2 separate regions of the Homo sapiens genome follow, and region 1 is linked to region 2. Evidence: fine-mapped expression QTL. A gene starts in region 2. The other region holds a variant in brackets. All regions are shown on one strand. Distances are from middle to middle. Region 1 has its middle 4.0 kb from the start of TRG-CCC4-1. Region 2 holds the start of PADI2 (peptidyl arginine deiminase 2).

What was found. PIP is the estimated chance that this variant, and not a neighbour inherited with it, causes the effect.
Region 1: its variant is the best candidate, but not a certain one, in a credible set for the expression of PADI2 in whole blood (INTERVAL, PIP 0.64).

The regions. Positions count from the first base shown.
Region 1 is chr1:16,680,909-16,683,818 of GRCh38, reverse strand. It overlaps the pseudogene EIF1AXP1. Among named protein-coding and RNA genes, the nearest start is that of TRG-CCC4-1, 4.0 kb to the right of the region's middle. The variant T/C (reference allele first, on the strand shown) is at 1,429.
Region 2 is chr1:17,117,605-17,120,514 of GRCh38, reverse strand. PADI2 (peptidyl arginine deiminase 2) reads left to right here and starts at 1,064. Exons shown (of 16, transcript NM_007365.3): 1 at 1,064-1,235. The coding sequence starts at 1,144. RefSeq lists an enhancer at 1-473 and a silencer at 1,045-1,254.

The DNA of each region.
Region 1 (2,910 bases), 440 kb after region 2:
ACATTAGTTTTTCTACTTACCTCCTCTAACACGTGGTTTGTCTGGAGAGTTTCTAAAAATTCAGCTATAACCCCAGTTCATGTATTTACTGGTGATTGTTCTTGCTGAGGTAGTAACAGCCCAATCTTGGGCTGTTAAATCCTAGGAAATCTCGAATCATAGTGATTAAAATAGTTGGGGTAAAGTTGTAGCTTATATGCAATACTACTTGGAGGAATTCTTTTACTAATTTGTATTTAATGTGGAAATTGTATAGTTTCATTGATTTAATCATAAATAATGGAAATGGTCTTCAAGAAGTTTTATTTCATTTTTTTGCTTATACACTCTGATTCCTATAATACAGTGCTATAAGCTATGCACAGAAAATAAAATGTTTGAAATCCAAGAATAATGGTTCTTACTGCTAAGAGGGAGTAATAGTTATTACTAATGATTTTGATTGGGTTGCATTTTTGTTGCAATGTTTATTCCACTTGCAGTTAGAATATGAATATGTTTTATCACTAATGTGGCTAAATAACCAAACATTTGTGTAAAAAAAAAAAAAAAAGCCAAGATTTCATTGTTTGTTGAATATTTCTTAAGCATCTAGCCCCTAAAGAGACTGCTTCTTACCAAGCCTGTAAACTATGCATGATGGAAATTCTTGTATTTTATTTAGGAATGGCTGTTGGTTTACTTACCACATCTGTGGAATCATGGCTATAAATGTTTGCTTACAAACTAAAAAAAAAAAAAAAGAAAACCAGAAGAGAAGAAAAACACAGTCTCTCTCATTCTTGAGGAAGTGTAGTGTGGCAGTTAAGAGAAAAGATCCTGGGGCCAGACTTGTTGCTTCAAATCCCAATTTGTAAACTTTCCTATGCCCCAGTTTCTTCATATGTTAAAATAGTAATAAAGGAACTACCTACCCCATCAGATACTAATGTGAATTAAATGAGTAAATTCTTATAAAATGCTTTAGAACAGTGTCTGGCATCAGGTAAAATGCTGTGGATTAGTTCTCATTCTGACTACCACTGCCCCAATACACTGATGTTAACATGCTGATATATTTATTCGAAGTCTTATTTTCCTATGCCTATTTTTCACACAGTGGTAACCCAATAAACTTTTAAATTATAGTAAACTTTAGAGAGCATTAAACTTGCAGCATGCAGAAATAGCTTGTCCTGCGTTCTTGTGGCTATCCTAACTAGATAAGGCCATGTTAATGGCTTGAGAAACATCAGTGTGTGTGGAATGAACACAGGACGTTGGAGGATTTGAATTCAGGCTCTGCCATGTGCTAGTTTGAGTGATCTAGAACAAGCTGGTTTACCACCTCTCTTTAAGTTTTGGTTTCCCCAGTCAGTAAAATAGAAAGTGGTGAAACCTAACTTGTGGGTATAAGGAGGATAAGAAATACTGTATTTGAATGCCTAG[T/C]ACAGTGTCAGGGTTGAATAAAGTACGACTTCACCTTATTCCCTAGTAATTATTGTCCTCATGACCAAACCTGCCTCCTCTCAAAGGCAGTGGCCACAACAGCACATCCAACTTTTATTTAGGAAGACATCTTTGTCTTTTTTCAGAGCATGAGGAGCACAGCAGCCGCAAGGAAATGGTCCTGGTGGAGGGGCTGTGCTCTGAGCAGGGGCGCCGGGGCTGAACGCTGGCTAGTTCCTCTGAGAGGAAGCCCTTGGAGAATGAACTAGGGAGGCAGGAAGAGTTCTGGGTATATGGAAAGTCAGAAAACATCTGGGTCCTATGAAAGGACATCAAAGATCTGAAGGCCCAGCTGCAGAATGCCAACAAGGTCATTCAAAACCTCAAGAACCGGGTCCAGTCCCTCTTGGTTACAAGTGATTATTCATCTAGTCTGGAAAGACCCTGGAAGCTGAGAGCTCCTGACACCCTGGAGGGGTCTTCACCTCATAGTGTCACTGATGAGGATGAGTTGTGGCTGTCTGATGGCACTGGGGCTTTCTACTCTCCAGGACTTCAGGCCAAAAAGGACCTGAAGAGTCTCCTCCAGAGAGTATCCCAGCTGGAGGCCCAGCTCCCAAAAAATTTATCTAGGGACATATAATTAACATATATATAACAGTTGAAGAACAGTGGCATGGTAAATTTTTGTTTTGTTTTGTTTTGATACAGAGTCTCACTCTGTCACCCAGGCTGGAGTGCAGTGGTGCCATCTCGGCTCACTGCAACCTCTACCTCCCAGGTTCAAGCAATTCTCCTCCCTCAGCCTCCCAAGTAGCTGGGATTACAGGCATGTGCCACCATGCCCAGCTAATTTTTGTGTGTGTTTTTAGTAGAGGAGGGGTTTCACCATATTGGCCAGGCTTGTCACGAACTCTTGACCTATGATCTGCCTGCCTCAGCCTCCCAAAGTGCTGGGATTACAGGCATGAGCCACCACGCCCGGCCCATACTAAAATTTTTAGTGCGATACTTTATCAGGGTAGAATTTGCTGTTAAATGCCTCCTATGGCTTATGTGCCAGAATTCAGTTTGGGGGAGTTCCTTAGAGATGTTCTCATAGAAATCTCTACAGAAGCCCCCATAACTTATCATCCACCCTTTCCTCTTCTGTCCTGCATTAGGAAATATGATTCCCTGATTCAGGATCAGGCCCGGGAACTGTCTTACCTACGGCAAAAAATACGAGAAGGGAGAGGTGTTTGTTATCTTCTCACCCAGCATGCAAAAGATACAGTAAAATCTTTTGAGGATCTCCTAAGGAGCAATGACATTGACTACTACCTGGGACAGAGCTTCCGGGAGCAACTGGCCCGGGGAAGCCAGCTGACAGAGAGGCTCACCAGCACACTCAGCACCAGTAAGTTGGCCACAGGGCTTTGGATACTCTCAGTCACCCCACAGTTCCAGCCCCTGGTGGCCACCACATCTCCACTGCAACTT
Region 2 (2,910 bases):
TCAGCTCTAACTCCTTCCCAAACACACATCCCCTCCGCCCCACTCCTTCCCTCCCACGGCCTCTGCCCACCCCCCCTCAGTTTCTGTCCTCACCTACCAAAGACCACTTCCTCACACAGGGCTGATGTATGTGTCTGAACAGCACTCCCACTGGGTCCCAGGGGAAGGGCTGGGACATGGGAGGGGCTGGCCGAGGCCCACACTGATTGTCATCCTACATCTCAGCCTCTGTGAGACACACGATGACCTCTGGGTGGCACCCCCCTTCCCTTGGTGGCCCAGGCCAGAACCGGGGCCCTAATCCTTACCCCTCTCCTCTCCCTCCACCCACACATCCTATCAGTCACCAGGTGCCACCAAAATCCCAGTCCCTAAGCAGTGGCCGGGTCAGTCCCCACCTCTCCAGCTCTGGCCACAGCCAGGGGCTTCCTTGCCCCTCCCCAGCCCAGAATGACCCATTTCACGAGCACACCCGACCACGGCTCGCGGAGACAACCACTCCAGGCTCCCATCTCCCACCCTCCAATGCCTTGGCTTGGCGTCCTGGTCTCCCTCAGCTGCCGGGTTCCCCATCCCCACCGCTTCCCGTTTTCTCTATGGTGAGGTTCATCTGACTGTTGGGGGATGGGGGTACCGGGCTGCACCCGGCTTTGCACAGGCAGCTCCCTCTCCTCGCCTTTAATTTGCAAACGCCTCCTTTAAGAAGGTTCCAGGATCGTCTTCTCTGGGAAGGCTTCCTGGCCCCCAGGCTGGGTTAGGGCACCCTCTTTGTGTTCCCACATTTGCATTTTCAGCCCCACTGGGCTGGGGCGTCCGGAGGGGAGCTAGGGCCCTCCAACACCTGGGCGCCCACCGAAGGTTTGTCGAATGAAAGAATGACAATCCAACCATGGAAAGCACAAAACTGGTCCCTGATGACTTCGCCACGACCTCAGCGGGGCGGGACGAGTTAGGGGCGGGACCACGCTTGACGGACAGGCCCGCAGCCCACTGCGAGAGGACTGGGGCGGGCCGCCCCGCCCACCGGCCGCTGGATAAGGCTGCGCGCGGGGCCGTGGGGCGCAGGCTGCTGGAGAAGGCGCACCTGCTGCAGGTGCTCCCGGCCGCCCCGGACCAGCGAGCGCGGGCACTGCGGCGGGGAGGATGCTGCGCGAGCGGACCGTGCGGCTGCAGTACGGGAGCCGCGTGGAGGCGGTGTACGTGCTGGGCACCTACCTCTGGACCGATGTCTACAGGTGAGCCGGCCCACCGTGATGCCCGGGCCGAGATCTCGAGCCCAGAAATCCTGAGACGCGCTCAGACTCGGGGACGTGGACAGCCTTTGTCCAGCCCGAGTTGTCCCTCATCCCGAGCCCCCGAGCCCAGAAATCCTAAGAATCTCATCCAGAAACCTGACAACCCCCGAACCTTGTGTCCACCTTCCAGAAACCCTGAGACTCTCCCAGACCCCCTAACACAGCCTCAGCCCCAGCTCCCTCACAGACCCTCCCTTTCACCCGTAACCCTCCGTCTGGCCCTCTCCAGTTCTCCTCCCGGGGGACCTCACACCCCTTCAGCTTCCCTGCCGTCCTCTCCCCTTTCACTTCCCCTCCGCACCTCACTTCCCCTCGGACCCACCTCAACCCAGCCCCTCTCCTGCTTCCCACTCCCAGTTCAGCGGAGCTTCCGCGGAGACTTGCCGGGGACTGGGGCAGGACCCGAAGGGAGCTGCCCTGAGGCTGAATCCGGCCCTGGAGGTTACTCAGGCTCCGATTTCGCCCTGTGGGGGCTGCTGGTGGTTGCTTGTCCCCAGGCACTGGCCCTGAGCTCCGTGTCCCCAGATACCTTCCCCTGACTTCATTCTGAGACCACAGAGGGACAATATTCTACCCAGCTGACGACGGGGACTTGGGGTGTATAGCGGGGTACTTTGTTGGAAAAGGATCCTGATTCAGAGTTCTGCTCCCTCCCCTTCTCTCTGTCCAAGAACTTGGTAGAGTGCGGGATGTCCGAGACAGCTGAAGGTAGGGTAGGGCCCTACCACTCCCCCCGCAATCCCAGAAAGCAGCCAAGTCCAATGATCTGTCTCCCTGAGTAATGGGACGGGGCCTTGGAAAGGTGTGGCTGGTGTGAATGAAAGGGTGGGGTTATGCTGGGGTTTGATCTGCCCCCTCTATTCCAAGCATTTAAAACCTCCCCATTGCTAGGGTTGGAGGGGTCAGTGCTGGGGGCAGGGAGCATGCAGGACTCTGAGGTGGGACCCTGTGCTGACACCGGATGAGTCCCCTATCCTCTCTGCCTCAAGCTGAACTCACACGGAGGCACCATCGTGGTTTATGGCTCTCAAATCATCCTGACACCTGGAGCACCCTGCCTCTCCCAGGCCCCCACCAACCCATCATGTGTCTCCCCACACAGCCCTGGCAGCCCTCCCACCTGCCCAACCAGTCTCCTGCCACCGCTGCAGAGGCACTGGCCACGCTGATACCAACAAGCCCCAGGACTAGGGACCCACTCCATGCCTCTGTCCCTGGCCTCAACCTCTGCCTTCCCCTGGGCCTGGGCTTCAGTTGTCCCCCATGTAAACCTCAGAGGTGGACTGGGTGGTCTCTGAGAACAAGAACACAGCAGTGGAGGGTGGTCCAGGCTCTGGTGGGGTGCAAGAGCTCCCCTGCCTTCCCCACCCCCAGCCCTGAACTGGGCACCGCTAGGGAGTGGGCGCGGAGCCAGAGTGCTCAGGTCTCTAAGCCTCAGCTGTCACCATACCCACCTGTTTATTTGCTGGGGCATGGTTGGTGCCGCCTGAAAAGCTGGCATGATCCTCCCAGTCGGGGGTGGGGAGCAAAGGAGGGTTCCTGCTCAGGCGCCCTGCTATCGCTCTATCCTGGCAAAGAGAGGCCCAGCTGGGGTAGGGGCACAGAGTGGGGCAGA